2 separate regions of the Homo sapiens genome follow, and region 1 is linked to region 2. The links come from fine-mapping of genetic effects on gene expression. Tissue or cell type: whole blood. Region 2 holds a variant in brackets; the other region holds the start of a gene. All regions are shown on one strand. Distances are between the middles of the regions. Region 1 holds the start of PPP1R7 (protein phosphatase 1 regulatory subunit 7). Region 2 holds the start of ANO7 (anoctamin 7).

Evidence for each region. PIP is the estimated chance that this variant, and not a neighbour inherited with it, causes the effect.
Region 1: it holds the start of PPP1R7, and the variant in region 2 is fine-mapped to the expression of PPP1R7 in whole blood (TOPMed, PIP above 0.99).

The regions. Positions count from the first base shown.
Region 1 is chr2:241,143,728-241,159,234 of GRCh38, reverse strand. It overlaps PPP1R7 (protein phosphatase 1 regulatory subunit 7), which reads right to left and starts at 8,768. Exons shown (of 10, transcript NM_002712.3): 1 at 8,688-8,768; 2 at 5,631-5,759; 3 at 1,373-1,428; 4 at 686-751; 5 at 1-22. The coding sequence starts at 8,739. It overlaps PASK (PAS domain containing serine/threonine kinase), which reads left to right and starts at 9,763. Exons shown (of 18, transcript NM_015148.4): 1 at 9,763-9,821. RefSeq lists enhancers at 424-924, 8,977-9,136, 10,650-10,809 and silencers at 8,347-8,686, 9,817-10,176, 10,237-10,296, 10,347-10,396.
Region 2 is chr2:241,178,397-241,193,903 of GRCh38, reverse strand. PPP1R7 (protein phosphatase 1 regulatory subunit 7) reads right to left here. Exons shown (of 10, transcript NM_002712.3): 10 at 10,252-11,257. The coding sequence ends at 11,081. It overlaps ANO7 (anoctamin 7), which reads right to left and starts at 5,227. Exons shown (of 25, transcript NM_001370694.2): 1 at 5,138-5,227; 2 at 3,733-3,847; 3 at 2,653-2,710. The coding sequence starts at 3,840. LOC105373971 (a long non-coding RNA gene) reads left to right here and starts at 5,482. Exons shown (of 3, transcript XR_924064.3): 1 at 5,482-5,628; 2 at 7,796-7,940. RefSeq lists enhancers at 2,654-3,154, 3,155-3,655, 4,589-5,272, 5,273-5,957, 7,153-7,675. The variant G/T (reference allele first, on the strand shown) is at 9,450.

The DNA.
Region 1 (15,507 bases), 35 kb after region 2:
AATTTTGGCGGAGGCAGAGAGTCTGGGGGATGGGAAAAGGGACAATTGACACAGGCAAGGGGGAGGCCACGAGAAGGCCTCAGCTGATACTGGAGGACACAAGAAAGGCCTTTCTGGTAGAAGGACATGTCTTCATTCTCCTGCTGTTTCCTAGAAAGGTGCTGACCTTTGAGAGGCAGGTGGGCAAGGGCACTAAGCTATAATTCCTTAACACACCTGAGGAAGGGCGGGAACCCAAAGGGAGGCAGGAGGCAGGCTCCCCACCAAGCAGGCCAGTTGGGGAGGGAGGCGTTGGCCTGGGGTGTGGGTGTCTGCCACTTCCTGGCAGAACATAAGAACCTTTGGTGGGCTCAATTTTGACAAATTCCAATGAGAGGCACGGAGGACTGTAAAAGTCAGCGAGTGCCTAATTGAACACAGGCACAGAAACCGAGGCAGGCCAGAGTCACAGGTCACTGGCTGCCTGGGCTCAGGAGAGCCAGCCCCAGGGCTGTGCCTCAAGTCCCTCGACTGCTGTCTCACACCTGCTGTGCTCCCAGTAAAGAAAGGCCTGCTACAAGGTGGAGGCAGCCACGCCGCCCACAGGCTGGGACAAGGACCACAACTCAGGACTGACTGCTCGATTCTGGACTTATCCACATCCTATGGGTGAGCGTCATAGTCCCCTCATAAGAGTCCCTCTCACCTTCACTTTCTTCAGTACCTCAAATCCTTCAATCTTCCCTATGCGATAGTGATTCAAATCAACATCCTGAAACAAAGCAGAAATCTATACTCAGCTATAGCAAAGTGGCTGGAGACCTGTGTCGTCCTAGAAGAGGCGGCCTGGAAGTGGGCAGCAGTGGGGGAGGCAGTGCCAGGTGGGTCTGCAGCAGACAGATGTCAGTGACAAGGTGTGCTGCGGGGGCTCTTTGGCTTAGTGATGACTAAGTTTTATGTAAAACTGGCCCTTAAAATGATTGGTACATGACATCTTTTTCTCATTCCTTAGATCCTGTATGCACAAAACATAAGCTCAGGTTCTGAGGATATGCACCCCATCCCATCACCATCAGAGACACGCTGTGGGCTCAGGAGGCCCAGTGGCCAGTCATACACAGCCTGGGGCCATTGGGACCCTCATGTATAATGTAATCATCAGACCCAGACAATGTATGAGTCAAAGGCATCTCATCTGCCACACAATCCTCAAGGGTCGAATAGACATGGGGATAACAATCACTGGTAAGAAAAACATGAACACGGGACTCTGACTCAACCAAGGGAGGCTTAGGCCACCTCTCTAGGGAAATAACTTACTAATCTCATACAAGATAACCTGACAGGGTGGTCCATCACCACGCCCAAGGCTGGGCTGAGCAGGCGGCATTACCTCTGCATCTCTGTCCAGGTTGATGGTTTCCATGTCCACAGGCAGCTCATGTTCTTCTGAAAAAATAAGAAAAAGAGATTTGTTCAGAACCCCATTAACAGGAGGCACTGGTGAAGAGCTGCTTCTGGCTGAGGTCTGGGGCTGTTTGGTGCCCAGAGCCAGCTCAAACCCCGAGGAGGAACCAATGGGAAGGTTTGCTGAGGACCTGGAGAATGTGGCAGGGTTAGACCCTGCTCCAACAATAGTGATGTTTTAAGCATTCTGAATTTCCTGAATTCAGATATTGGCAAAGGTCACCAAACATCCATCTGTGCCTTTGAACTTCCTGAGAAAGGAAATGTGTTTTGAACCTGTTAGTGGGAAGGAGGGGAGGAAGTAGCTGAGTGCAGGTGAGCAGGGTAGCACTACTGCCTTTCCGTGACTCCCAGAGCTGCAGAACTGGCAGCAGCCTGCCTCCCATGTAGCTTTTCTCTTTTTGTTTGTGGCAATAAACCAGGCCATTAGAATCTAGACCATGCTGGGCACATCAGATGCTCTAGGATGGGCCTTTTATTGCTTTGGAAGGTGGCCCAGCATCTACAAACACTTCCCTCTGCAAAGAGCAAAACAAAACAAAACATAGTTCAACAGATAGGATCAAAGAAGCTCACTGAATAATTTAAACACACTTCTCAGTGGGGAGACTGGTGAACTCACTCCAGCAGAGAAGCCCATTGGATTTCACGAGGACTCTCTACCCCGGAGCCGGCATCCTCTGTGCGGAGGAGGGAGAGAGCTGCTCTCCCTGCTGAGGCGACAGCTTCCCTGTTAAGCACTTCCTCATTTCATTTCATTGGAACCTACTTCAGCATGTGTGCTGAAAAGGACTAAGACACACACAGATGCACACACACACGCATGCACAAAGACACACAGGCACGTATGCACACTACACAGACACACGCATGCACAACAGTGGTATACACAGACTCATGCAGACACACAAACACGCACACTCACCCCTCAAAACACTTAAAAAAATTAACAGTAATTCCTCAATATCACCAAAGATTGTCAGTGTTCGTATTTCCTCAACTGTCTTAACATTTCTTTCCTTAGTTTACTTGCATTATGATCCAAATAAGGCTGTATATTGTGACTAGATGGTATTTCTCTTTTAAAAAACTTTTTTAAATTAATTTTTTTTTAAGAGACAGGGTCTCACTCTGCTGTTCAGGCTGGAGTATAGTGGTGTGATCATAGCTCACTGCAGCCTTGAACTTGTGGGCTCAAGCAATCCTTGTCTTAGGCTCCCAGGAAGCTGAGACTACGGGTGTGTGCTACCATGCCTGGCTAATTTTTTAAAACCATGTTTTGTACAATCAGGGTCTCGCTATGTTGCCCAGGCTGGTCTGGAACTCCTAGCCTCAAGTGATCCTCCCACCTTGGCCTCCCAAAGTGCCAGGATTATAGGCACGAGCCACTGCACCCAGCCCAGCATTTTTCTTAAATTTCTTTTTTCCCCTTGCAGTTTTCTGTTGTAGGAAAACAAGCTGTTTGTCTTGTAGTGCTTCTCCCAGTCTGGAGTCTGTGAATTATATGCATAGGATGTTCTTTCTCCTGTAAACAGATTGTCATTGTCACTACCTTACAGGGCTGTCAGTGCTGTTACTGTGGCTCTTCCTAGAGCAAACGTGCACTTGCTTCTGCAGGGGAGTGAGCTCACACAGCCCTGGACCCCATGCCAAGGGCTGGCTCCTCCAGCCTGGCTCCTCCTCTCACCTGGAGGCCTCTGAGAGGAGCACCTGACATCAGACCAGCTTAACAAAGTCATGATCCCACATGGTTGCATTCACTTCATTGTTTTCCACTATGCCTTTTCTATAACCATCAACTGTGGTTAGTTAAAAAAAAAAGTTTACTATAGTTTATCCACAACTGTAAAGGATACCAACCTAAGAATTAAATAAAAGGAACTGGGCAAAACCAAGAGATAGATAACAAATCACCTCAAAAGACAGTGTCAAGTCACCGTTCATAAACTCAGGAAGTTGCACTGGAAGAGGTGCTACAATTAAGGCAGGGCGCCCAGGTCATGTAGTCCAAACCAGGACCCTTTGAGAGCAGAAGGGCACAGTTATGCTGGGCCAGCAGGCAGAAACGGGCTGTGCCAGGCTCCTCAGGACACACGGTCGCATGGCTTTAAGGGGTCTTGTTTGTAATACAGCCAGCAGGGCTGGCCGCTCACCACTCAAAATGTCAGCTAACCTCTGAAACAAGGTTTCCAGCCTAGAATGCCCTTCTGAGTGTATTATATATTCATCATATTTTAAAAATAATTTAAGGAAAATAGGTAGAAGGTAACAGTTGACATGATTAAATTTGTTTTAATTGAATTTAAGACTTAAATAAATACAGGTAGGAGCAAGTCTTGGCTCCTCTAAGGGCTAGAAATGCATATTCCCAGAAAATTCATAATCAGCTAATCATCTCGAAGAAAAAACTTGGATTTTTCCAGGCCAGGCCAGCTGGTCTGCCTTGTAGCCGTGTGCCCTTGGACAAGCTGCAGAGAGTCTCATTTTCCTCATCTATAACACATTACCACACTGGTGTACTTACAGAACATGATGACAACATGATTAGCCTGTGCTAGTGAGCCAGGGAAAGAAAGCACACAAGGCTTGCTCTGCCAACTCTCAAGTCCTCCATAAACACCCAATGTCTCAGCAGCACCCATCTGAGGATAGCGGGGGCTCCTACCGCTCCACTGTTGGTGACTAAGTCAGGCGATGACGGAAGCTTCCATCTATCACTCCCATGCACTTTATTCCACCCACATCACTTCCAGAACATCAGCCTCAAAGTTCCAAAGTGAATGTGACTGGTACTTTTGTGGTAATCTCCTTGTGACTTAAAAGTAGGTTGCCATAGTTACCAATCATCTTTGCTGGCACAGAGAGCACAATGTTATTTTAAAAATTAGGTTTGTTTCTTCATAAATTTATTTTCATAAGGGATGCATGATTATTCATACACTGTATACAAATCTAGAAAACACAAAATGTATAGATCCTTCTTAAACCTGCTGTTTGGACAGACTCAGCCCGTTTGATGTGTTTTCTTTCTTTAGCAGGTAAAAGTACATACATGCATGCATACTGTTCAGAAACTTTTTTGTTTTGAGATGGAGTCTCATTCTGACCCCGGCTGGAGTGCAGTGGTGTGATCTCAGCTTACTGCAACCTCTGCCTCCCTGGTTCAAGCGATTCTCCTGCCTCAGCCTCCTGAGTAGCTGGGACTACAGGTGCACACCACCATGCCTGGCTAATTTTTCTTTTTTTCTTTTTTTTGTATTTTTAGTAGAGACAGGGTTTCACCATGTTGGCCAGGCTGGTCTCGAACTCCTGACCTCAAGTGATCCACCCGCCTTGGCCTTCCAAAGTGCTAGGATTACAGGCGTAAGCCATTACGCCCGGCCACATCTAGGCACTTTAGAAGTCAATCCTCAGGCCTATAAAAATGGTAAGGCAAGACTCAGAAATAATTTCTCTCAGAGATTAAAGGTTTCTATTGCTATGGTAGGACATAGAAACACAGCAGTCAGCCATAACATTTATTTCGAATCTCATTTCCTAAACATATGGTTAATATAACAATATTGCGGTTCTTTTCTTTTTCCTTTTTTTTTTTTTTTTTTTTTTTTTGAGAAGGAGTATCCCTCTGTCACCTAGGCTGGAGTGCAGTGGTGTGTTCTCGGCTCACTGCAACCTCCACCTCCTGGGTTCAAGCGGTTCTCCTGCCTCAGCCTCCTGAGTAACTGGGATTACAGGCACACGCTGCCACGCCCAGCTAATTTTTGTATTTTTTGTAGAGACAGGGTTTCACCATGTTGGCCAGGATGGGCTTGATCTCCTGACCTCGTGATCCACCCGCCTTGGCCTTCCAAAGTGCTGGGATTACAGGCATGAGCCACTGCATCTGGCCAACAATGTCATGGTTCTGTCTCAGACGGCATACTAGTACCCATATTTGTGCTAGGATTTGCCTTCAGTGGAATTGGAAAAAACCACATCCTTTTTGCAAACGCCATCAATGAGTCAGCCTGCTGAAGGAGCACCTCAAAGAGCATATCCACCTGCCCTGGGCCACTGAGGACCCCTAAGGAGCACGGCAGTCCTTCTCCAGACCGACACAGCACCCACACCCAGGGCCAGACCACGTGCAGCACAGCCCACATCCCCCAACCAGCAGATGTCCCCAAGGGAGCTGGGCCTGGTACCTTCTGGGTCCTCCTCCCCCCGCTCCTCCCCATCCTTCAGGCTCTGTTCACTGAGGTCGGCCACGATGCCACTGCTGTGTTTCTTCCCTTCTTCATCGCCGGATTCTTCAGACTCGACCCGCCTGTCAACTGAACCCACACATGTCAATGAGAATTCACATCCACTTTATGGGACTTTGAGGAACATATAATAAACACCCGGTTGTAAGTCAAAAGGATTTCATTTAAACATGTTTGTTGAATCCAGTTCAACGAACATCTGAGTGTCTCCCATGTCCCAGCACCATTTGAGGCATATGGCCGCGGGGAGAATGGGGAGCAGAGTGTGGAGCCCACATGGATACTTAGGTGAGGAACACACTACTTCTGCCCTCAAGGAGCTTGTGAAGAATTGCCCAGTGTTCTGAAAGCCTTGGATCACCTGTGATTAAATCCACTAATGGAACCCGGTAGTGAAGCACCTCCTGAGTGCCTTTCACTTTTGGGCTGGGGGATCACCACTGTGACCCTTCTGCCACATACCTCCATCCATGCTCCACTATTTATCTGGCTAAGAAAACCAGCCAAGTTCACAGGCCCACGTTCTGAAAGAAATCAAGACTAACTCAAATCAGACTGTGGGCAGGGAGGATCACTAAGGAAAAGGAGAATACAGCCAATAGTGCTGACCGCCCACAGAAAGCTCATTGGTGTGAAATGAGCTTTCACACTGGACACTGGACAGAGTGTTAGCAACTTAAGGCTTTTAAAGGTTCATAAATATTTTTTGAATTAAAGAATAAGGCAATTCAATGTGTCAGGTAAAAATTCTTTGGTAAGGTTGTCAAATCATTTTTCTTTTTTATAACTTTACTCATGACCTCTTTTGGAAGTCTGTCTGGAAAACATGAGGCACTAACACATTACTTGGAATTATCAACCATACTGAAAATACTCTTTCCTGACTATGGTTTATCTACAAAGAGATGTGCTCTTTGAGGGAAAAAGTTCAACTTCATCTTTGTACTTCCCGCTTAGCCTAGCAAAGTAAAACCCAAGAAAGGATTGCTGTAGAAAACAAGTCCTTATAAAACCCACCTCCAAAACCTCCAAATCCATCTCTTCTTCCCTACCCCCGCAATGACGGTGGCTCACTTACTTATTAGCTGCAGCCTGGGCTCCTGCCCTGCCTCCTAACTCGTCTCTGTGACTTGTCTTGCCCTGCTTAACCTATTCTCCCCTGCCAGAGAGTCTGATCTAATTCTAAAATCCAAATCTGATCTTTTGAGTCCAAAAGTATTTCTGGAATGCTCTTCCTGAGTTTGCATCTTGCTGCTAGAGATGCAGCTTTGGCAAATCGTTTCCATTTGAAAGCCTCAATCTCCTAGTCTGTGGAAGGGAGCTAGTATAGCACCTATGCCTCAGCAAGTTGCTGTCACGGTTAAATTAGAAAAGGCACAAGAGCAGTTAGCACGTGCATGACATGCAGTAGATATATAACAAATTAGTCACCACCAGGCACAGGTCACTTGGTGGTCCAGGCTCAGGGAGAGAAAGTTCTACTGCATGACAATCTGGCACAAAAACCCCAGTAAGAGGAGGAGTGGTGTGAGGTTAGCAAAGGCTTAGCTAACGAAGGTTGGCCAAAGTGAAGCCTGAGGGCAGCAGAGAGGGTCTGGAACATGGGACAGTGGCTCTGCATGTAAGAAAATGACTTTGGTGTACTGGGGATGATGGGCTGGTGAACAGGGACAATCAATCTAGCCTAGAGATGATGAAGGTCTGAGTTAAGGTACTGGCAATGGGAATGGAGGACGTATCGGAGATTTGGAGATACTTTCAAAAGTAAAAGTCAGAGCTCCTTGACTAACAGGACATGGGTGGGAGTGGGACAGTGAGAAAAGCCGGGCTTTTATATCTGTCATTTACCAAGACATGGAAACAGCTGAAGAGGGAGTGGGAGGATATGAAGAGGCGCTTCTTAAAAAGACTCAAAGGGTATGAAGTCCAAGACCCTTAACACTACCGCCCCCATCCCCACCACATACGATTTGGTCAAACTCTCCTCCACACCTTTTGACAGCAGTTTTCTCCGTCTTGAGTGATTCTTGCTCTTTTCCCTCACCCTATCCCCAACCTCGTTGCCTTCGAGTTATTCTTCAGGCTCCAGCTCAGAGCTCGCCCTGCTTCTGCAGCTGTCACCACTCCCTAACATGTCAGGCCTTCCTGCTGCACCCGCCCTCCTTCCCCAGCTCCACATTCCTCTTCCCTACCCCTTTCACATAAGGCAGTGACTGCTCTTCTGGGAGGTCTGTACCCCTCACCAAACCATGGGACCCAAAAGTACTTAAGCTGATGACACAACTGATTCCCCAGTTGCTAAGTGGGTGTGTGCACGCATTTTTACACACATACTGTACGTGCACGTATATGACTGTACCTACAGATATGCAGAAAATTATAAACACATGTGTACGTATAACATATACATATATGCATGTGGTTTTTTTTTCCAACAAAGTGAATGAGGAGGAAGAAAGTTGAATTCAGACTTTTTGGAACTATGACAGCTTTGAAAACAGGTATCACCTTGTGTAACTCAATCTTCCGGTTCCTTGTTACCCCTTCCCAACAGTCCATTCGATTTCAAGAGAAGACCCTTCTCCACCCTCACCACGTGAACCAAGGAGCAGACTCTGGTAGATCCCAGCGCCTCAGTTTCCTCGTCAGCTGACCGAGGAGGCTCCCCCGCCCGTCAATCTCAGAGGCTCGGGGCGAGGCTCCAACTGGACTGAATGGAGCCACCGCGTCCCATTCAGCCCCACCCCCGGCCTGGCCTCGCGCCGCCGCTCTCCCCCTAGCTCTGGGTCCTTCCCGGCCGCTGCCGCCCCCGGGCCGGGGCTCCCCCGAGGTCCAGCGCCTCCCCCGCTCCCCCGGGTCCGGCTGTCAGCTGTCAGGGGGCCGCGCGGCGGCGGCCAGAGGCAGGACGTGGAGTTTCTCTCAGGCACGGAGCAGTTCCAGCCCGCAGCTCCCCCCGCCCGCTGGGCCCTTGGGCCGCCGCCCGCAGGGGCCGCTCACCCTCCATCATCTCCTGCGACTGTTGCTGCCCCGCGCCGCGTTCCGCCGCCATGTTGGCTGCTCTTCCCCTTTCCGGAATCTGTCGCCTCAGACCCCTCAGCCAATCAGGGCTCCCGCCTCAGAGCCGGCCCTGCCAATGGGATTCCGGCGCGGCGACTTCAGCCGCGCCGCGCCTGCGTGGGCCCAGCGCCTCATGGGAGTTGTAGTTCCGTCATGAGGCCGCGCGCCGCGCCTCCCCCAGAGCAGGTAATTTCAGGCGGCGGAGCCGGAACAGTCTGGAGGCGAGAAGCTGGGAAGGAAAGCAGAGGGAGTCGAAGCGGGACGCACAGAGCCGTAGCTGCAGGCAGACGGAGTGGACGTCTAGGCAGAGTGGAGAGACGCCCTGGGCTTGAGAGTTGACTTATGTCACTGTCTCGACCTCGGAGGCGTGGAGGGGCCGCGGGCCAGGCGGATCTTTCCGTGGCTGCAAGGTGCGGGCCAGTCCTACGTGCATCCCTGACCTCTGCGAGCCTCGCTGGCTGCGTCTGTACAATGGGCCGAACGGCAAGAGCAACAACATTCTCCCGGCGTCCCCGCGCGGATTTTACCCATGCGAAATGCCGCCTTCTCTTGACGCTCGGAGCAGGCGGGCAGGTGCGGGGCACTTGCGCTGGTGGGGCCGCTAGCCAGCTGGCTGGCTCCGGGGCGCCAGCTGGGCTCCCCTTGCAAGTCGTTCCCAGCCCAGTGCGGACGCTGCAGCCTTCGTCTACCCTGCGGAGCCACCCGGCCCATGAACGAGCCGCCCCGCGTCCTCCGCCTTCAGAAAGAGGCCTCCAAGAGGCGAGCTCTGCGCTACTCACCCATTTTGATCGCGAGTCGGGAGGAAACCGCATCTGCCCGGCCCGGGGGCGGAGGCGCCCATTATTCCTTTGGCTCCTCCGAAGCGCCGTAGGGGTGTTTGGTGCGTCCCTAGCAACCCTTAGCGCGGGCTTCTAGACTCTGGCTAGCTTAGTCCCGCCCATACGCGCAAGTGGCTGGTCCGTGGAGCTTGTCAATCGGTGCTAGTCGCTGTGCGATTGGTCGGTGGGATAAAAGCGCGGAAGGGCTCCTTTCCGTGGTGTGTAGCCGGCTTGGCGTGACCCTCGCCTGATCCAGGTGAGATACCTGCGCTCGGGAGAGCGGGCCGGGCTCCGCCATCTCCCCAGGGCGGCTGTGGGGCCTGCGCGGCTCCGCGCCCCTGGCCCAGGAGGATCCGCCGCCCGACTCTTAGACCAGCCCGACCCCGGGTCTCCCGCCCCTGCGCCCGTCGCCCTTCGCGCACCGCCGAGCCCGCGTCCTCTCCGTGCCCAAATCGCGGCGGGGTTGCGGCCGTTGGCCCTGGGCCCCGCGCCCCCAGCGTCTTCGGGGTGCCCTTCAGTGTAGCCTGCCCGGTGGGCGCCGAGGCCCCGCGCCTCGGGTCGCCTCGGGACCCTGCGCTCTCTTCACCGCAGCCGGCCCTGCGGGGCGAGCTCCAGGAGAACCAGCCCGGATCCCGCCAGCCTCCTGCACTGGGCGTGTGGGTCCCTGCGGGCTCAGCCGGCGCCGCGGGGTCGGGGGCGCGCGCCGCCGGCGCTCGTGGTTACAGCAAAGACCTGGACTTGAGCCTTAATTTTTTCACTAATTTTTCTTTCCCAGAGTACGGCAGGGGCCTGCGCTGCCGTCTTGAGGCCTTTCTCGTCCTTACCTTCCGCATCTCAGTACCATTCGATGTCCATTTTTCTCTTAGGGGTTCCCTCTCTTCATCTTTCTGCTGCTACCTTAATTTAAGACTTTATAATTTCTTGCCTGGATTACTGTAGCCTTTCTCCTGCTTTCCAGCCTTGCACCGACATGGTCCCTGGAGTAATCTTTGTAAAATGCATATCTGGCCATGTTACTCCTAAGCATTGAATCCTTAAAAGTTCATTTTGGGGATAAAATTAAGACTTTGGGCAGGCATAGGAGGCTCTGGGCTCATGCTTGGCCCTTCCAGGCCCACGTCCACCTACTCTTCTGGGTACTGAACTCCTCTCTGGGAGGCTTTGCCTCTGAAAGACTTCTTCACTCTGCTTGGTAGGGCCCGGCTCTGCAGGTGCCTCCTCCAGGACTGACATCCTTGCTGTGTTCTACTGCACTGTTCACCTTGTTGGCCTCATCCTGAAACTGGTTCTCCTTTTTGTTGTACAGCTGTGCTGACAGCAATGGGAGCTGTTTGCTTCTTAGCTTATGTTCTGGTGGGAGGGGGACAGTTGCTTCTAGAAGTTCGCCGAGATGCTCCCTGCAAAGTTGTCCTTGCTTCTGTTTGGTCTGAGGTGGGGTCACTTGTGTCTTCTGGAATCAAAACTAGCAATGGGAATATGGTTACTCGGTGGCACCATTAGGTGCTGTCTGCTGGGTTTGGGTTCCCGTGTCTGCAGCTCACAGTGGATACAAAGGACAATTTTAAAAATTTGGGCCTGGACGTGCAGGTATTTCTGGTTAACGTCTGAGTCAAAATTTAGTGATCTAAGGTCATGTGAAGCCAGACTCTGTTCTTTCTTGAGGCCAGGCTGTGGCTGTGGAGTGCACGGGAGGCTCCAGGGGCCTATGCTGTTCAGTGACAAACTGGCCCACGTGGACTTCAGATGCCCAGGAGGCACAGCGGGAAAAAGGATGCATCTTTCCTGCTGTCCTCCCCGCTCCCGCAGAGGGTCCCATCAGTTTCCCTCCTGGATAGGCTTGTAACTCTCAGTAACCTAATTAAACTTCCACAACTTTAGTTGGTATTTATTTACTTTCTCCCATGAAGGACAAAAAATTGCATGCCCTTACCCTCCCTTTGCTTTTTTTCCCCCTTTCCATTTCATGTTAGTTACTTTTACAAAGAAACTTCTGTAACATTTACAATATATTCTGAATAGTTATATTACTTTTTTATTATTTTATTTTTTGAGACAGGGTCTTGCTCTGTGGCCCAGGCTGGAGTGCAGTGGTGCTGTGTCCTCTCACTGCAGCCTCCGCCTCCTGGGCTGAAGCGATTCTCCCACCTCAACCTCCCAAGCAGCTGGGACTACCAGCATGTGCCACCACACCTTGCTAATTTTTAATTTTTTTTTTGTAGAGATGGGGTCTCCCTATGTTGCCCAGGCTGATCTCGAACTCCTGGGCTCAAGTAATCTGCCTGGCCTCCCAAAGTACTGGGTATATGACTTTTTAAAATAGTTTTGTAACATTGACATTGCAGTCTGAAGAGTTATATTTTTTAGGAATTAAAGTTTTCTAACAATGTATTCTGAAGAGTTATATTACTTTTTTAAGAAAGTAAGGTTTTACAACATTTACAATGTATTCTGAAGCTATAATTAAGTGTCCTGAGCTTTGTCTATAGGTTGGTTCTAAAAGTAGAAAAAACTGCCTCACACTATAATCATGTCATTGTTATTTATTATGGCAATAATTAGTGCATTTGGATGCTTAGAGAAGGAGATGTAAACCTGTAACTAAAGGTCCCATTCATTGTTGCTGCTTGTAGGAAAGCTGCACACTCGAACCCCAAACCCTATATGTAATAGCTTCCTACACATCTGCAGGTTTGCAGAGCCTTTGCCTTCCAGGGTCCTAGGCTGGGTTTGTGTGTGAATGTCTCTGAATTTTTTGGCCGTATCAGTTTATTCATACAAAAGAATAAAGGCAGTGTTAGTCATGAATTGTACCAGCAGAGTGGATGCATTTGAACCCATCACCCTAGGAAATCAGGGGACCTGTGCCCTTGTGCCTCTTCCCCACTCTTGCACCTGCCTGACCCAGAGGGAACCACCTGCCTGAAATTTAGGTTTACCAGTCTCTTATTTAAGAAGTAGTTTAATTACATAGGTGTGTTTCCCTGAACTACTTATTTAGATTATTTCATGACAAAGGAATCCTCCTGCTGATTGTCTTCCGTAACTTGATTTTTTCCACTCGTATATGGCTAAGATTCACCCTTGTGTGTAGTTTATTTGTTTTCACTGCTGTAATTAGTGGTATGAATATACCAGAATTTAAAATCTATCTTCTTGTTAAAGAGTGTTTGGGTTTCATTTCCTTTTTTCCTCCCTCTCTCCCGCACTCCCTCCCTTTCTTCCCTCCCTTTTTTCTGCCTGTCTCTTTGCCATTGAGAACCATATTGTCCCGAACATTCTGGTGTCTTCTTATCTGTTTGCAAAAATTTCTCTGAAATATAAATCTAAGTGAAAAGTGCTGTATCCATATAGACAAATGTTTCACTTGAATTGTTTTCTAAAGAGATTATATTAATGTATTAAGAGTTCCTGTTGATCCAAATCCTTTTTGACATTGGGTATTACTAGATTCTTCATTTCTGCTGACTTAGTAGGTATAACATCATCATGATTAGGATTTCCTCTCCTGTAAAACGCTTGTTCCTATTTCTTGACATTTTTTATTGGGCCATGTGTCTTTTAAAAATGTTTAAATTTTAAATAGTTGATCTTTTAAAGCTATTCTGGATATTAATTTTCTGTTGGTTATGTATGTGGCAAATATCTTCTCCCAAATTGTGGCTTGTTCTTTCGTTTTCTTTATGGTATTCTTTGTGAAGCTGTGTTCTCATTTTTTTTTTTCTTTTTTTTGGGGGGGACGGAGTCTCGCTGTGTCGCCAGGCTGGAGTGCAGTGGCGTGATCTCAGCTCATTGCAACCTCCACCTGCCAGGTTGTGTCGCCAGGCTGGAGGGCAGTGGTGTCATCTCGGCTCATTACAACCTCCACCTCCCAGGTTCAAGCGATTCTCCTGCCTCTGCCTCCAGAGTAGCTGGGAATACAGGTGTGTGCCACCATGCTCAGCTAATTTTTTTTTTTTTAGTAGAGATGGGGTTTCACCACATTGGTCAGGATGGTCTTGATCTCTTGACCTCGTGATCTGCTTGCCTCGGCCTCCCAAAGTGCTGGGATTACAGGTGTGATGTGTTCTCAATTTTAACGTTAAACTTATTAATCTTATTTTATAGCTAGAGTTTTTTGTGCCTTGTTTAAGAAAACTTTCCCTACCCCAAAGTCTTACAGATAGCCTCTTTTCTCCTAAAAACTTAGTGATTTTATTTTATATTTTATTTGGTTTGACAGGTCTCGCTTTGTTGCCTAGGCTGGCCTCCATCTCCCTGGGCTCAAGCAATTATCCTGCCTTAGCTTCTAGAGTGGCTCGGACTATAGGTGCAGGCCACGAGACCTGCCTGGCTAAAAAGTTTAGTGTTTTGACTTCCACAGATCAGATCTTTTATGCCCTGGGCACCATAGTGAGACCTCATCTCCTAGTTAAAAAAAAAGATGGCCATGTGAAGATACATACAAACAGGGAGAAGTCGGCCGGGCGCGGTGGCTCACGCCTGTAATCCCAGCAGTTTGGGAGGCCGCAGCAGGTGGATCACGAGGTCAGGAGATCGAGACCATCTTGGCTAACACGGTGAAACCCTGACTCTACTAAAAATACCAAAAATTAGCCAGGCGTGGTGGCGGCTGCCTGTAGTCCCAGCTACTCGGGAGGCTGAGGCAGGAGAATGGCGTGAACCCGGGAGGCGGAGGTTGCAGTGAGCCGAAGTCGCGCCACTGCACTCCACCCTGGGCGACACAGCGAGACTCTGTCTCAAAAAAAAGAAACAAACAAACAGGGAGAAGCTCTGTGATGGCGAAGGCGGAGACTGGAGTGACGCAGCTGCAGGTCAAGAACACCAAAGATGGCCAGTATGGCCAGTAGCCACCAGATGCTAGGATAAGGCAAGGAGGGGGGACTCCTTGGAGTTCCATATTGGAAGAGGTGGTGTTGGGAGGGCCACCTCCCCTTTCCTCTTCACCCCAGGCCTGCCTTGTCTTGGAAGGGCCTCGTGTGGGCATCCTGCTAGCTTGTCCAAGCTCGCTATTCCTGGAAGGCTGCTCCTCAGCCAGTTCACGGCTATAGGTGTGCCAGTGTGGGAGGACCTGGGTGGAAAGAGGCCTGTGTGTGTCTTAGAAGTGGGCACCAGACCCTTTGGCTGGGAACTCTGGGGTTCTGGATACCCAGAAGGTGGTCCAGAAGAGGGTATATGGGGTGTGGTTGGGCTTGCCTTGGCCCCAGGGTCTCCTCATTTCGTGGGGGAAACTCCAGCCATGGTTCTGGTATTGGCCACAGCCTCCTCTTGCTGTTTATCTAAAGCCTGGATGACCAGGTGGGGGCTTCCTGCCAGTAGAGGAAATCTTCTTGCTTTAAGGGCTCTTTTTGTTGAGTTTGGCCATGAGGACAGGGTATTGGTAAATGTGTACTTGTGTTTCAAGTGCTTGCCAATATGCAGGATGGAACTCTTAAGTATCTCCACTCTGCAGGGTGGTCACATGAATGTATACATGTGACAAGACTGCATGGAACACGTGCTCACATGCGCGCACACACACACGCTCATGTACACATGTGCACACGCACACACACGCACGGACACACACGCACACCCACACACACACACACCTGCAGGTAAATGCCTTGAAATCTGGACGAGGCTGATGGATGGTATCAAGTCAGTTTCCTGGCTGTGACACTCTCCTGTAAGATGTCACCATGAGAGGGAACTCGGAAGAGTATGTGAGATTTTCCTGTATTTCCACCCTGTATCAGCATTTGAATCATGTATAAGAGAAAAGCTAAAAATACAAATCTCTGGTGCCAGGCCTGTCTCTAGGAGACATGGCCTCTTGGCCATGGCCCCCGCGACCTCACTTGTTGGCAGCACCCAGGTGATTCTGTGCACAGCTGGTCGGATGGTCAGGACTCACTGTTTAGGGGAAAGCTGAGACCATGGGAGCTGTGCAGCCCCCACGTGCT
Region 2 (15,507 bases):
CTCTGTCTCAAAAAGAAAAAAAGAAAGAAAGAAAAGAGAAATTAAAGTAGACCTAAATAAATGGAGAAAATACCATATTTGAGGATTGAAAGACTCACTTTCTAAATATGGGAAATAATACATCAGGCATACGTTAATCCCTTTGACACAAAACAGAACACACAAAACTGACAAAACTTTAACAATACCAGGCCAAATGGATTTTAAGACACAAAGCATGATTATGGATAGACAATTTTCTAGGCACAATTAATATTGATAAAAGGCATGATTTTCTCAGAGGATAGAATATATTCTACCTTTATATGAAAGTTTAAAACGATTGTATCTTGGGAGGTGCTGTCTTGGAATGAAGGGTGGGGAGCTTCTGGTAGCAGGAGATGTGGTCTGAGGGCCTGGTGGGGCTGGGAGGGAGGGGTAGGCCTGTGGCTGCACAGGCAGCTGCGAGGATGCCTTAAGCCTCACACACACAGAGGGGGCGTGTGGAGGATTTTGAGAAAATAAGGGCTGTCTACGTTTTAAAAAACCATCTTAGGCTGGGCGTGGCGGCTCACACTTATAATCCCAGCACTTTTGGAGGCCAAGGCGGGCGGATCACCTGAGGTCAGGAGTTCAAGACCTGCCCAACCAACATGGCGAAACCCCGTCTCTACTACAAACACAAAAATTAACCGGGCGTGGTGGGGCGCACCTGTAGTCCCAGCTACTCGGGAGGCTGAGGCAGGAGAATGGTGCGAAGGGAGGCAGAGGTTGCAGTGAGCCGAGATTGTGCCACTGCATTCCAGCCTGGGTGAGAGTGAGACTCCATCTCAAAAAAAACACAAAAAACAAAAAACAAAAAACCAACCAACCAAACAAAAAACCATCTTAACCACATTTAAGTGTACAGGTCATTGGTACTAAGGACATTGACATTCTTGTGCAGCCATGACCACCATCCATCTCCACTGAATCCCTACGCCCATTAAGCACTAACTCCCCCTCCCCGTCCCCAGCCCCTGGCACCCACCATTCTACCTTCTCTCTCTATGAATTTGACTCTCTGGGGACCTCATATAAGTGGAATCACATTTGTCCTTTTGTGACTGGCTGATTTCACGTAGCATACTGTCCACAAGGCGCATCCCCGTTGCAGCCTGTGTCAGACTTTTCTGCCTTTTTAAGGCTGAATAAATCCGTTGGATGTAAATACCACATTTTGCTTATCTAGTCATCTGTAGGTGGACACGTGGATGGCTTCCACCTTGATATGGGCTGAACTAAGTTTCTCCAAAATTTGTATGTCAAAGCCCCACCCCACAGTCCTCAGAATGAAACTGTATTTGGAGATTAGGTCATTAAAGACACGTGATGGCTATTAGGGTGTGCCCTAATCCATGACAACTCGTGTCCTTATAGGAGGAAGAGACCCCGGGGGTGTGAGGACACAGGGAGAAGGCGCGTCTGCAAAAGCCAAAAGAGAGGCCTCTAAGCCACCAGCCCTGCCTCACCCTCACCTCGGGCTTCAGCCCCAAGACTGTGAGAAAAGAAAGTTCTGCCATCTAAGCCCCGCAGGCCGTGGTACTTTTTTTTTTCTTGGAGATGGAGTTTTGCTCTTGCTGCCCAGGCTGGAGTGCAATGGCGCGACCTCGGTTCACCGCTACCTCCGCCTTTTGGGTTCAAGCGATTCTCCTGCCTCAGCCTCCCGAGTAGCTGGAATTACAGGCATGTGCCACCACGCCTGGCTAATTTTGTATTTTTAGTTTCTCCATGTTGATCAGGCTGGTCTCGAACTCCCGACCTCAGGTGATCCACCCGCCTTGGCCTCCCAAAGTGCTGGGATTACAGGCATGAGCCACTGTGCCTGGCCCAGGCTGTGGTACTTCTTATGACAGTCCCAGCAGACGAATGCACGCCTTCCAGCTACAGTGAATGACATTGCGGGTGTACAGATATCTCCCCGGGGCCCCCATCCCGTGCTCGTGGGCGCTCACCCAGGGAAGACATACTGGCTTTTACGGGAACTCTGTGCTGAATTCTCTGAGGAACTGCTGTTTTCCTTAGCAGCTGTACCATTTTACACTCCCTCCAGCAATGCACAAGTGAGCCAGTTTCCGCTCATCCTCATCAACACTTGTGATTTTTTTTAAGTAGTAGCCATCCTAGTGGGAGGAGGTTAGGGTCTCTCTGGTGCTGAGGGGACAGCAGGGTGGGCGGGGTGGGTGCTGGGAGCCCGGCTGGTGCTGGTGCAATCCCCTGGAGTCGGTGGTAGCTCCGGGCAGACAGAGGCAGTGGGTTGGGGGTGGATCAAAGAGATTTTGAAGGTACAAAAGGGGTGGAGTGCAAGAGATAAGAGTCAGAAATGACCTGAGTTGTGGCTGAACAGCTGGAGGATGGTGGAGGGGACTGGAGCAGGAGGGAGGGGGCAGCCCTGTCCACTCTCCAGAGCCCTTCCGGCCCCACCCCATCAGTAGGGAGCCCCCTTTCCTGCTGTTCTTCCCACTGTGGTTTGCTCACCCCGAGGCCCTCACCCCAGTGCCCCATCCCCAAGCAACTGGCCCCAGAGTGGCTACTGAGGAGGCTACCCCAGCCTGCTGCCCCTGGGGGCACCCCCGTGGTGTCCCCACCCTCAGGACCAACACGGGTGTGGTACAGGTGCTGGGAGGGGCTCACCGATCCGGGGCTTGGCAGGACTCCCAGCTCTGCAGGCGGCCGCTTGCTGTCCACCTGGCTGGAAGGCATGGAGGATGGAGAAGCATATCAGCATCAGCATCTGCCCTCGACAACTACACCCACCCCGCCCCACCCTGAAGCCGTCCTCGCCTCCAACCCGTCCCCGCCCTGCCCCAGAACACTCAGGACCACAGAAGAATGTTCGGCGGGTGGGTAGGGGGTGGAGGGGGAAGCCCCTCTGCTGTGTGGGGGCACAGGATGCGCAGGCGCGGGGAGCGGCAGGCAGGGCCAGAGGGCACCACCAGCCCTGGGCCTCCAGCCGGCTCCCCTCCTCCTTGGGCCAGGCCCATGGCAAGGGTCAGGTTGGCGGGAAGCATGGCCAGGACCAGGGGTGCCTGCCTTGCTGGCCTCCAGGGGCAGAGGGGAGCCGGACTGCTCCCAAAGGGGCCCTGAGGACAGAGTTGGCCATGGCGACCGAGAGTGTCTGGATGCTTGAGGTGAGAGGCCCTGTGCCCTCCCTGGAGGCTCATCTCAGCTGTGCTTGGGGCGGCAGGAAGGGGTCCCGTGTCCACCCGCAGGCTGCTGGGGCAGACGTGTGGCCCAGGAGAACCAGGAAGAGGGCCCTCCACGGCCAGGGCCTCCCGCATGGCCTTGAAGGCCCGGGACCCAGCCTCTCCCCACAGGCTCACAGCGCATCCATGGCCTCCTAGTGACAAGGTGGAGCCCTACAGATGGCCCTGGGTGCTGCTGTGGCCCTGCACTGACTGGGACTGACACCACAGGGAGGGCCCCGCCCTGGTCTTGCCTTTGCCTGGCCAGGCCCCCCTTACCCTCCTGGAGCTCCTGTCTGAACATCAGTGGGTTCTGCTCGGTTCTCCACAGCCAGGCCAGGCCAGGAGAGCGGTGATCTGACTGTGTGTGTTGAGGACTGGGTGGCGAGGGCTTGGGGGTTGCCGGGGGATGCAGGAGAAACACGGTGATGCCCATCCACCCCCAGAGGCTCTGGGCCCAGGGTGGGGGCATAGACCCAGGCAGGGGAGGACCTCTCAAGTCGCACCACAGTCTCCTGGGTGCTGTTACCTCCGAGGCGTGGGCTGTGCTCCCGTAAGAGCCCCTCTTCTCTGCCTCAGGGGGGCTCACATCGATCAGGACGGTGCTGTCCTCTTCCTGGGCCCGTCGCCGCAGCATCCTGCTCCTGCACCCAGCAAGGCCGGGTGGGGATGGGGGTCAGAGAGGGGATGGGTGAGACCCGTTCCTGGGGCCACCACACTGCCTGCAGTGAGCTCACTTTACAGACTCGACTCGGAGTAGAATGGGGCTGGGCTGGCTCGGCAGACTCTCCTGGCCATGAGCACATGGAGAACCCCCTAGCCAGCCACGAGCTCCAGGAAGAAACCAGTGCCGGGGCGGGAGCGTCTGGCAGGCCTGGCACAGCAGGCGTCTGTCTGTCCATCCAGTGAGTGCCCGTGTCCCCCAGCCCTGAATGCCGTCCACTCTGCCTGGGTACTCAGTGGAGCCTGAGAAGGCCCAGAAAGGTGGGCCTGGAGTACAGACACCTCTCCCTCTCTTATCCGTAGGGTGGAGCCATGTGAGCCAGGGACAGGAAACCCCTCAAGTCGCCTGCCTTCGCTCATGGCCTGAGGACCCAGTGCCAGGACCCATAGGCCCTGAGCTCCCCAGCAAGGCGGGCCTGATGGAGCCCGGCCTCACAACTCTTGGGGGTCCCAGCTTCCTCCCGCACCTTCGCCCCGGGGGTCTCTCTCTGTGGGAGGACAGGTGCCGTGGCTCCTAGTCTTGGGCTGGCAAAACGGGGCCAGGAGCACGACATCTGTGGCCCTGGAAGGAGAGGGTTCGAGCTGGGGCTGGCATTTGGAGCTGCGACGATGACCGGAGGGTGTGACCATGGAGGCGCCGCAGGAGGTCGGAGGGGCAGCCTTCTAGTTCTACCCTTCACTTCACATTAGCGGAGGCCCAGAGGGACAGAGACTGAGCCTGGGCCGCCTGCACCTGCCTAACCCTGAAGCCCGAGCCAGGTCTCAGTGTTAGGACTCGGCCCCGGCCCCAGGCTGGGAGCCTCACTACGGACTGTGGGGTGTTCCTGGAGGAAAGTCCCCGAGGAGTTTCGGCCACCCAGCAGCCCCTCATGCCCCCATCCTTCTGTGGTGGGCAGGCGGGCCCCTCCTCAGAGCTCTCTGCAGAAAGAATGGGGATGCCCCCCACCCCAACGAAGGGACCTGCTCCATGGGGGAGCCCCTGGGCAGGCAGGAAGCCAACCCCAGCTGGGTGTACCCCGTCCAGAGCCGCACTGAGTGTGTGTCCCTCCTCGTGCCCCAAGGGGCTTTGGGGACCAGGGCGGGCCCTGGCACTGCCTCCCCACAGGCCAGGGTGTGTGAAAGTCCCGGTGGGCTGGGGTGCCGCCCTGCCTCCCTAGAGTCCAACGCTCCACCTTCTCCCTGTGGCCCACACGTCTAGGCTGGGTCCCCACCTGGCACAGTGGCTTCCGGAAGAGGTCTCGGAGGTCATGGCCCACCTCTCAGCGTGAGCCTGGTCTCGGCAGTAGAGTCCCGTCCTCACTGCGGGACAGAGGGTGGGGAGGGGTGGCCCTTGGAGCCCCGCCCAGGCAGTGGCAGCCATTCGCATGCCCTCACCTTGCCTGCAAGTGGGCCAGGAAGCAGGCAGGGGAGGTGCCCAGCACAGCTGGCCAGGGCAAGGCTTCCCGGCTCCTGGAGCAGGATCTATCTTTGTTTAAATAGGGGGTGTGGGGCTCAGAGCTGCAGACAGAGGCAGCCCACTTGGCTGGGCTTTCACACACCCGCATGCAAATGCTGCCGTCCTCCTGGGAACCTTATTTGCTTAGAGATTTCAGGGCTGGCATCAGCTGTCATAGTTGCTGCCTTGGAGGGTCTCGAGGAGGTGGGATTCCACAGGAACAGCCACAAGTGCCACCTCTGCTGGAAGCCTTGCCAGGCAGACCTCGTAAGCTCTGTTTATGTGGGGGGAAACTGAGGCTCCTTGAGGTTACGTAGCATGTGCTGAGTGGTGGGCCAGGGTTTCACCCGGGGGCTGGGGAGATTGGGAGACCCAGATCACACTGCTGGCTCTGCTAATGCCTGAGGGGTGACCTCAGGCACATCCCATGCTCAGGGCCCCATCTGCAAAAGGACAGGAGGGGTCCTAGCCTTCCTCCCATCCTTTCCGCCCTCCTCCTCGTCCTCATTCTCCTCCTAGCCCTCCTCTTTCTCCTCCTAGCCCTCCTCCCCCTCCTCCTTTCTCCCCCTCCTCCTATCCTTTCTCCCCACCTTCCCTCTCCTCCTTCTCCTCCTATTGTTTCTCCCCCCTACTCCTCCCTCTCCTTCTCCTCCTATCCGTTCTCCCCTCTCCCTCTCCTCCTATCATTTCTCCCCCCAACTCCTCCTCCTCCTCCTCTTTCTCCCCACTCCCCCTCCTCCTATCGTTTCTCCCCCTCCCCCCCACTTCTCCCTCTCCTCTTCCTTCTCCTCCTTTCTCCCCACTCCCCTCCTCCTGTTTCTCCCCCTCCCCCCACTTCTCCCTCTCCTCCTCCTTCTCCTCCTATCCTTTCTCCCCGCCCCTCCTCTTCCCCTCTCCCTCCCCCTCCCCCTTTCCTCCTTGGTGCCTGGCAGTGTCTGAGAACCTACCACCCGTGCTCCTCGCCCTCCATGCACAACTGCACTGGGGAGCCCCAAGCTCAGCTTGCTGTTCCAGGTGCCCCCTTCTGCCTGTTGAAATCCCTCCAGGCGGACCCTCATCCTGGCTGCAGCTTTCCCTTATACCTATGCCCCTCTGTGCTTGGCACCTCCCAAGGGGCCCTGTTCTTGGACCTGTGTTGTGCCTCGGAACAGCGGGAAGGCCCTGCAGGCCGGGTTCCCTGTCAGCACCAGCAGAGCCTGGGCGGCAGGACCTTGGGGCCCTGGGCCTCAGGGCATCTGCATGAGAGGTCTCTGCTTGGCCAAGCTCAGCCTGCAGGCGCCTGAGGTGGATCCCTGGACGAGGGCTGGACTGGGGAAGTGCTCCAGAAACCAGGAAAGGAGTCGGGAGGCAGGAGGGGAGGGAGGATGAGCGGGGCACCATCTCCCCAAGACCTGTGGAGGGTGGCCTCAGCCTGCCATGGGCACTCTGCAGGGGAGGCAAGACGAAGCGTTTCCTCACCTGGATGCAACTGTAGGCTCTTACTCTGCTCAGTCATTGGCCAAGGACCCTCCCAGGAAGACATGCCACCTCCCAGGAGCTCCTGGCTCTCTGCTCTTGGTGACAAAGTGGCTCTGGTGGCCTCAGGGCTGTCTACTCAAGAGCTTCAGGGCCGGCTGCTGGAGGTGACCACACCCCAGTGGGAGCCCTTTCAGCGACAGTGCACGCACAACACCTAAAGGGGGTTCGGCCCTGAGGAGTGTCTTTCCATTTTTACTTCATACAACTCTGTTTGGGTGGGTGGTTTTTTCAAGTTGTGTTACTTCTGAGGGAAAGGAAGGAAGGGAGGGAGGGAGAAAAGCCGCAACCAGCACAGGGGGCCCGCCAGGTTCCAGGCCTTGGGAAGAGCCCAGGCCCAGAATCTGCTGCACCATCTTTCTTTGGCTGTAACATTTTTTTTTTTGAGACGGAGTCTCGCTCTGTCGCCCAGGCTGGAGTGCAATGGCGCCATCTCGGCTCACTGCAAGCTCTGCCTCCCGGGTTCATGCCATTCTCCTGGCTCAGCCTCCGGAGTAGCTGGGACTACAGGCGCCCGCCACCACGCCCGGCTAATTTTTTATATTTTTAGTAGAGACGGGGTTTCACCTTGTTAGCCAGGATGGTCTTGATCTCCTGACCTCGTGATCCGCCCGCCTCGGCCTCCCAAAGTGCTGGGATTCCAGGCGTGAGCCACCGTGCCCGGCTGGCTGTAACATTTATGGACATACTTAGGGTGTAGTTAGTGGAGGTGGAAGTGGTGGTGAAGAGCCCACACTGAAGTTCAGCCTCTTTCTGAGGCTCCTTCTGAGGCTGGAGGCGCGTGCAGGGCTCCCTCCATGAGGACCCTGGCACTGCGCCCCAGCCACATGGGAGCCCTGCTGGACGGACGGTGGCTGGGTCGCAGGGGACAGACTCTTGGATGCCTGCACTGCCCGCTTTCTAACCTTCCTGTCTGCAGGTGCAGCCAGCAGCCCAGCTTCCTGTGAGCGGCGGCTCCACACAGGCCACTGGCCCCTGGTGTCTGAGTTGCCCACTCTGGCCCTTGGCCTGCGTTTCCGTCAGGATTCCTGTCTCCTTTATTTGATGTGTGGGAGTTCTAAATGGTAAGCCTTGCCAGTTTTAAAAGCTGCAAACGCCTTCTCTTAATCTACTGTTGCCATTATTCAGGTATTATTCATTATTTTTGTTCTATGTAAAATTTTATGTAAATAAACCCATCAAAATCTTGTCTTACAGTTGTGTTTGTGGAGTTTTTTTTTCGAGATAGAGTCTTGCTCTGTTGGCCAGGCTGGGGTGCAATGGCGCAATCTCAGCTCACTGCAACCTCCACCTCCTGGGTTCAAGCAATTCTCTTGCTTCAGCCTCCTCGAGTAGCTGGGATTACAGGTGCCTGCCACCATGCCCGGCTAATTTTTTGTATTTTTAGTAGAGACGGGGTTTCACTATGTTGGCCAGGCTGGTCTCGAACTCCTGACCTTGTGATCTGCCCACCTCGGCCTCCCAAAGTGCTGGGATTACAGGCATGAGCCACCGCACCCGGCCTTGGGGAGTTTTCTCTACTGCTAGCTCACATATCCGCCTTCCCACATTCTTTTTTCTTTTTTGGGGGTGTGAGACAGGGTCTCACTCTGTCGCCCAGGCTGGAGTGCTAGTGGCGAGATCTCAGTTCACTGCAACCTCTGCCTCCCGGGTTCAAGCGATTCTGCCACCTTAGCCTCCCGAGTAGCTGGGACTACAGGTGGCTGCCACCACGCCCGGCTAAGTTTTGTGTTTTTTTAAAGTAGAGATGGGTTTTCACCGTGTTACCCAGGCTGGTTTTGAACTCCTGAGGTCAAGCAATCCACTCGCCTTGACCTCCGAAAGTGCTACGATTACAGGCACGAGCCACCATGCCCAGTCTCCCACATTATTTTCTACTGATTTCCTATTTCACCACCGCCCATGAATCACCAATTGCTCTGGAGCCTATCCTGTGTGTGATGCCAGGGAGGGGCAGTGTTCATTTTTCCACATAGTGCACTCTGCCAACATCATGAGGACACTGTCCACCCCTCCCCGACCCCCGGACACTTTTCCCAGTCCCCGAGTCCCCTGGGTTCCTGCTGAGGTGTCCCTGTCTTGGTGCTGTTAGGTCAGGCCTCCCCCCACACTCTCACTGTGGGTTTGCAGCACTCAGGATCTGGTAGGAAAGCGTCTCTCCCAGCTCTTTTTCAAAATGAATTGAATCACAATGTTGACTTTTTTCTTCCATATACATTTTAGAATTTGTCGGGCACGGTAGCTCATGCCTATAATCCCAGCTTTTAGGAAGGCAGAGGTGGGAGGACAGCTTGAGCCTAGGAGTTTGAGACTTGCCTGGGCAATATAGCAAGACCCTGTTCGCCAAAAAAGGAAAAAGAAAAAGCCGGGCACGGTGGCTCACTCCTGTAATCCCAGCACTTTGGGAGGCAGAGGCAGGTGGATCATGAGGTCAAGAGATCAAGACCATCCTGGCCAACATGGTGAAACCCCGTCTCTTCTAAAAATATAAAAATTAGCTGGGTGTGGTGGCATGTGCCTGTAGTCCTACCTACTCAGGAGGCTGAGGCGGGAGAATCGCTTGAGCCCGGGAC[G/T]CGGAGTTTGCAGTGAGCACAGATCGCGCCACTGCACTCCAGCCTAGCGACAGAGCGAGACTCTGTCTCAGAAAAAAAAGGAAAAAAAATTAAATTTTAGAATTTAATGTGTCTCAAAAAATCAAATGGTGGCTGGGTGCGGTGGCTCACCCCTGTAATTCCGGCATTTTGGGAGGCTGAGGTGGGCGAATCACCTGAGGTCAGGAGTTTGGGACCAGCCCGGCAACATGGCAAAACCCCATCTCTACTAAAAATACAAAAATCAGCTGGGTGTGGTGGCGGGTGCCTGTAATCCCAGCTACTAGGGAGGGTGAGGCAGGAGAATCGCTTGAACCTGGGAGGTGGTGGCTGCAGTGAGCTGAGATTGCGCCATTGCACTCCAGCCTGGGTGACAGAGAATGACTCCTTAAAAAAAAAAAAAATCAAATGGCATTTTGATTAGGATTGTGCTGGATTTAGCATACCTTTCCTCATCACTTCCACATTTTTTGTATGTTTGTAAAAATGTCTGTTAAAGAACAGATGGCTGGGTATTAATTTGGAGCCTTTTAAAACTTGAGACAGGGTCTCCCTCTGTCACCCAGGCTGGAGTGGGTACAATCATGGCTCACTGCAGCCTCGCCCACATTGGACAGTACGGTTCTAGAGTCCTGGTTCCTCAAGTAGACGGTTCTAGAGTCTAGAGTCCCGGAGGCAGAAGGGACCTTGGTGACCACATGATGTGGCCCTCATTCTGCAGGAGGAGAAATCTGAGACCCTGGGAGGTGACGATGCCCTGGTAGCATTAAATCCAGACTTCGGGTGTCTGTCAATGTACATTTTATATTAAAAAAGCCAAAATAACAATGGGGTGAGAACAGGAGGCCACTATACCAGTGGCCAAGAGTTCAGATCCTTGGAGGCCGTCTTTGGAGAGGCTCAATGGGACTCGTATTCTGGCAGCAGCACAGCACCGTGTGGGACACAGGACACCCTCCCCACACCTGAGCTTTCACCCACAGGCAAGGGATGTGGCGAGAACTGACGGGCACACGTGAAAACAGTCAGCCCTGCCCGGCGCTCTTTGAAGGAGAGCTCTAAGGAACACAAGCACACAGGGCTGAGTCAGCTTTTACCCAGCTTTTTTAACTTACCTAATTTTTAAAAAATTGAAAATGGCTGGGTTAAAAGACTAAAAAACCTCGGTTGTTGCAGGTCAAGACTGCCTGAACCCTGCACACCAGGACTAGGGCCAGCTAGGCCAGCCCCCGAATGCCACTCGGACAGCACGTGAATGCCTGTAAAGCACTCTCAGGCCCTGTGTTTCACACGACTCAGGTAGGGACTGTGACTGCCTTCTGAGAGAAGGAAACAGGGATTTCTAGCGAATGAACGCAACGTGTCTTATGTTCTCTCTGTGGCTACAATAACTGTCAACAATCACCCAGGAGGACAGTGTGGCAAGATTTAATTGCAACGGCATCTGAAAATGGTGTGTGACGTCGCGCGCGCCAGCTATCGTCAGTGCCTTTATTGCCATTGGGTTTGTGACTGTTGATATAGTGACGACCTCAGGAGCAACAGGTGGGTTAAAAACCCGTGGCTGGGCAGTTCTTCCGAGGAGAGGGACCACATGAGGAGCCAAGAAGGACTCAGAACCTGACGAACGTGGCATCGATCTGCCGCACGGAGGGGAGGGCGAGCATGACCTTCCGCCGGTACTGGGGGTCCTTCTGCAAGGGGTTCCGCTCCAGGTACACTGTCTCCAGGCTCCTGGCTCCCTTCAGCTCGTCGAGGTCGCTCCAGCTCTCAAGGAGATTGTCGTTCATCTGGGGACACACACAGCAGAAAAGCCTTTAGAACCAAACAGCCCAGCCCTCGACTCTGGTGGGGTCCACTAGCCACCCTCCTCCTTCCCACTCAGAAGATGGCGAGCAGGTGTGGGTCTTCCCTGGCACCTCATGGGACCTTCCATGGCCTCTTGGTGCATCCTGGCCACCTTCAGCTGCATCCCAAGTACAAGTTACCTGTCCATAGCCAACCCTGGGCCAGTCACTATGACGGGGCCAAGTCCACATTCAGGTCAGCAGAGGAAGGACAAAGCAGTTCTGGCCACCTGCCTGCTACACTTGTCCATAGGCAAGTGTCAAAGCAGGGTGGGCTGCACTTTCTACAAACCAGTTCTCAGCCATCATTCCCAAGGCTGCACTCTGCGCCATCACTGTGACACAGCAGACAGAGGCCGCTCTACTTAAAACTCTCAACTCTTCTGTAAATTACCTCTATGGCTCTCTCCACAAGGAAGTCCCAGCTGCTGCTTTCACCCAATACCAAGTGCAGGGACACAAATCGTGAGCAGGTGGGATTCAGAGGTCTGAGTTGCAGGCTACATTTTACCATCTTGGCCCTGCCATGCCCAGTTGGAGGGACCTGCCTTTGGCAGGAAGAGTTCTCTTGCATTTTTTTTTTTTTTGAGACAGAGTCTCGCTCTGTCGCCCAGGCTGGAGTGCAGTGGTGCCATCTCCAGAACAAGGGGAGCCAGTCCAGCTTCAAACCCTGTTGGTCTGACCCTCCCTTTCAAACACCCTGTGTGTAGAAATCACATGTTCAGAGCTGCCCGGCCTCAGGGCCTGCCAGGCAAACCGCGGTGGCAAGAGCACGGGCACTGCTCCTGAAGAGGCAGCTGGACTTGACTGTGAACCTACAATGGGCACAGGCAGGGGCACTCGTTATAGGGTGACAGACTTCGACTCCTTTTACAGGGAAGTTAGGAAGGGAACTGTCCATGTGGAACGGAAGGCAAGCAGGGGCGTTCTACTCTGGGGCCCACACTGCCCACTGCCCTGCCCACAGCTGTGGTCCGACTGGGGGGTCCCTGCATGGACTTCTGGACCTCTGCTCTGCACAGCTCCCCTTCTCTCTGGGGCCCTGTCTGGCACACTCTAGCTGCCAGAGATGTTGATCTCTGCCTCTTCCACTCAGAAGTACTGTGTTCTGCTTGGGAAACATCCCAGGTAAGGAGTGGGGTGATCACGGGGCTCGCGCTGGAACTCCCTCCTCAGAGCCTGCAGGTGCGTGCTGCCTGCTGTCCACTGCCTGAATAGAGTTGTTTCATATTTTTCTATCTGTCTGTGGCAGGAGGGCTAGTTTTGCACCAGGTCCACTGTCACAGCCAGGCTGTCTTTAGTAACTTACCGTGTGTCAGGGGCTTCCCAGAGAGGAATATAACGTGCATCTCACAGGTTTGCCTGTTTGAGGAACCCTATTTTCTTTTTTTTGAGAGGGAGTCTCGCTCTGTCGCCCAGGCTGGAGTGCAATGGGGCAATCTCTGCTCACTGCAACTTCCGCCTCCTGGGTTCAAGCGATTCTCCCACCTCAGCCTCCCAAGTAGCTGGGATTACAGGCACTCGCCATCATGCTCGGCTAATTTTTGTATTTTTGTAGAGATGGGGTTTCACCACGTTGGCCAGCCTGGTCTTGAACTCCTGACCTCAAGTGATCCACCCGCCTCAGCCTCCCAAAGTGCTGGGATTACAGGCGTGAGCCACTGCGCCTGGCCTGAGGGACCCTATTTTCACAGAACCTTTTGTGGGACTAGTGCGTACCAGCCTTGGGAAACCAAGAATTCCAAATCCTAGAGCTTAGCCCTTGAAGAGGGACTGACACCTGCTGGGAGGAGCTGCACCACCAGGGCTGGTGCCCTGCTGCTGCTGTCCCGACCAGTGCCTCCATGTGGACGGGACGTGAGCGTACCTTCTTAAATGCTACTCTGTTACTACACTCGCACCGCCCCGCTGGTTGTGTGGCCAGTGCAGAGCCTGCAACACTAGAATTACAGGGGAAGCCATCCACCTGCCAGGCCTGTGATTGGCCGGTCACTGGTCAGTTAACAGAAAGAGCCCCTTAAAGTGGAGAGTCACGAAAATGATGCACACACACGCCTTAAACCAAGCTTGTCCAACCCACGGCCTGCAGGCTGTAAATGGCCTAGGATGGCTTTGAATGAGGCCCAACGCAAATCTGTAAGCTTAAAAACATTTTGAGATTTTTTTGCGATTTTTTCACTTTTTTTTTTTTTTTTTTTTTTAGCTCACCAGCGATCGTTAGAGTATTTTATGTGTAGCCCAAGACAATTCTTCTTTTTTCCAGTGTGGCCCAGGGAAGCCCAAAGACTGAACACCACTGCCTTAACCACTTCTACCACAAAACACACAAAAAGGACATTCATTTAATGAAAGTAGCAATATCACACTGTTTGGAAGAAGTAAGATTTTCTTGTAGCATAGTCTATTTAAAAAATGATTCAAAACACCACTGGCAGTTGACTCAGGCTTTCAGCTCTGGCGTGGGAGGTCTTCAAGCTGTGTCACCTCCTTCTTTCTCGATATGTGATGTATTTGTGTTTGTCACACACCAGATGCTTCTTGTCTCACACATCACAGCATTTTCCAATGTCATTATTAGTCTAGATGGGCGGACCATCTTTATAAATTGCAGATGTTGTAATTTTCCATAGCACTGCCAATCTCAGAGCAGTTTTCTCCAGGACTTAGTAAACCTAACACGGGGAATTCTACTCACCACCAATGGTGCATTGTAAATAATGTGTAAATAATGTGTTTGATACTGGTAACTTTCAGAGATTCTTATCTTTGCATTTTTCCAAAATGGAACTAAAAACATTCACTTGTATGAGACTCTGTCTCCATAGACATTCCAGAGGCTCCTGAATCCCAGGATGGGGCAAAGATGTTACACTCATCATGGAAAAAAGATGACCTTATGTTTCTCTTATCAAGTTCTGCACACTGGGGCTGTCAGGGAGCCTGGCTGGGGAGCGCGGGCACATTCCTTTCCCCCAGAGGGACCACTTCAGTCTCTTCTAATCTTGAGCACCTCCCATGTCCTTCTCACACTGTTTTTTAAAAACTAAAATTGGCTTCTTGAAGAACTGTCTTGTAAAGTATCCCTCACTGTCATTTAGCTTGTTCTTCTAGCTCTTACACTTCCCATAAACTCAAAGTTAGGTATGAATGCTTGGTTAGATCAGACTAAACATTTTTGGTAGGTATACTGCACAGATGACTCACACTGGGGACACAGCACTTCAGGTGGTCCCACAATTAGGGATGCTAAGTTTTATCATGCAGATCAGCTGGTGACCCCAGATGACTCTGGGAACATGCTTTCCCTTTGCAATTAGCGAGTTCTCTGTGGCATGATCCTTGGGCCTGTGTGCAAACATCCCTTCTTCAACATCCTTCCCAGTAATCTCAGCAGCTGATCCCTTGCCCGAACCAACGGCTGGGATTCTGCTAGAGAACATCTTCTTGGCTGACGTTTTCCTGGCAGACTCTTTTGGTTTTTGGAACCCAAACTTGCATTTTGTATTTATGGGGTTTTCTATCTGTGTATTTTGCATATACATACATAGGATACCTGTATTTCCCTTCACAATTTTTTTGGCTGATATTATAGAAAATTCACATTAATTACCCCAAACTCAGTAATGTTTTAAGCAAAAGATGGGTAGAATTCTTAAGATACATTTCATAAACAACTGGTAGAATGTAAAAATCACTTATTTTCTGAAAATCTCCATGACAGTTTAACAAAGGAGATGCGTGACACAGGCACGGCCCATCAAGAGCCGTCCGTGGGGATGGTGAGGCTGCCAGACACAGGCACGGCCACATCGAGAGCTGTCCGTGGGGATGGTGAGCTACTCGGGAGGCTGAGGCAAGAGAATCCCTTGAACCCGGGAGGCGGAGGTTACAGTGAGCGGAGATTGCGCCACTGCACTCCAGCCTGGGGGACAGAGCCAGACTCCGTCTAAAAAAAAAAAAAAAAAATTAGCGGAGCGTGGTGGCGGGCACCTGTAGTCCTAGCTACTCGGGAGGTTGAGGCAGGAGAATGGTGTGAACCCAGGAGGTGGAGCTTGCAGTGAGCCGAGATCACGCCACTGCACTCCAGCCTGGGTGACAGAGCCAGACTCTGTCTCAAAAAAAAAAAAAAAAGCTGAAGACCAGTGACAAAGTAAAGTATCTGCAACACAGATGACATACTAAGGTTTAGTATC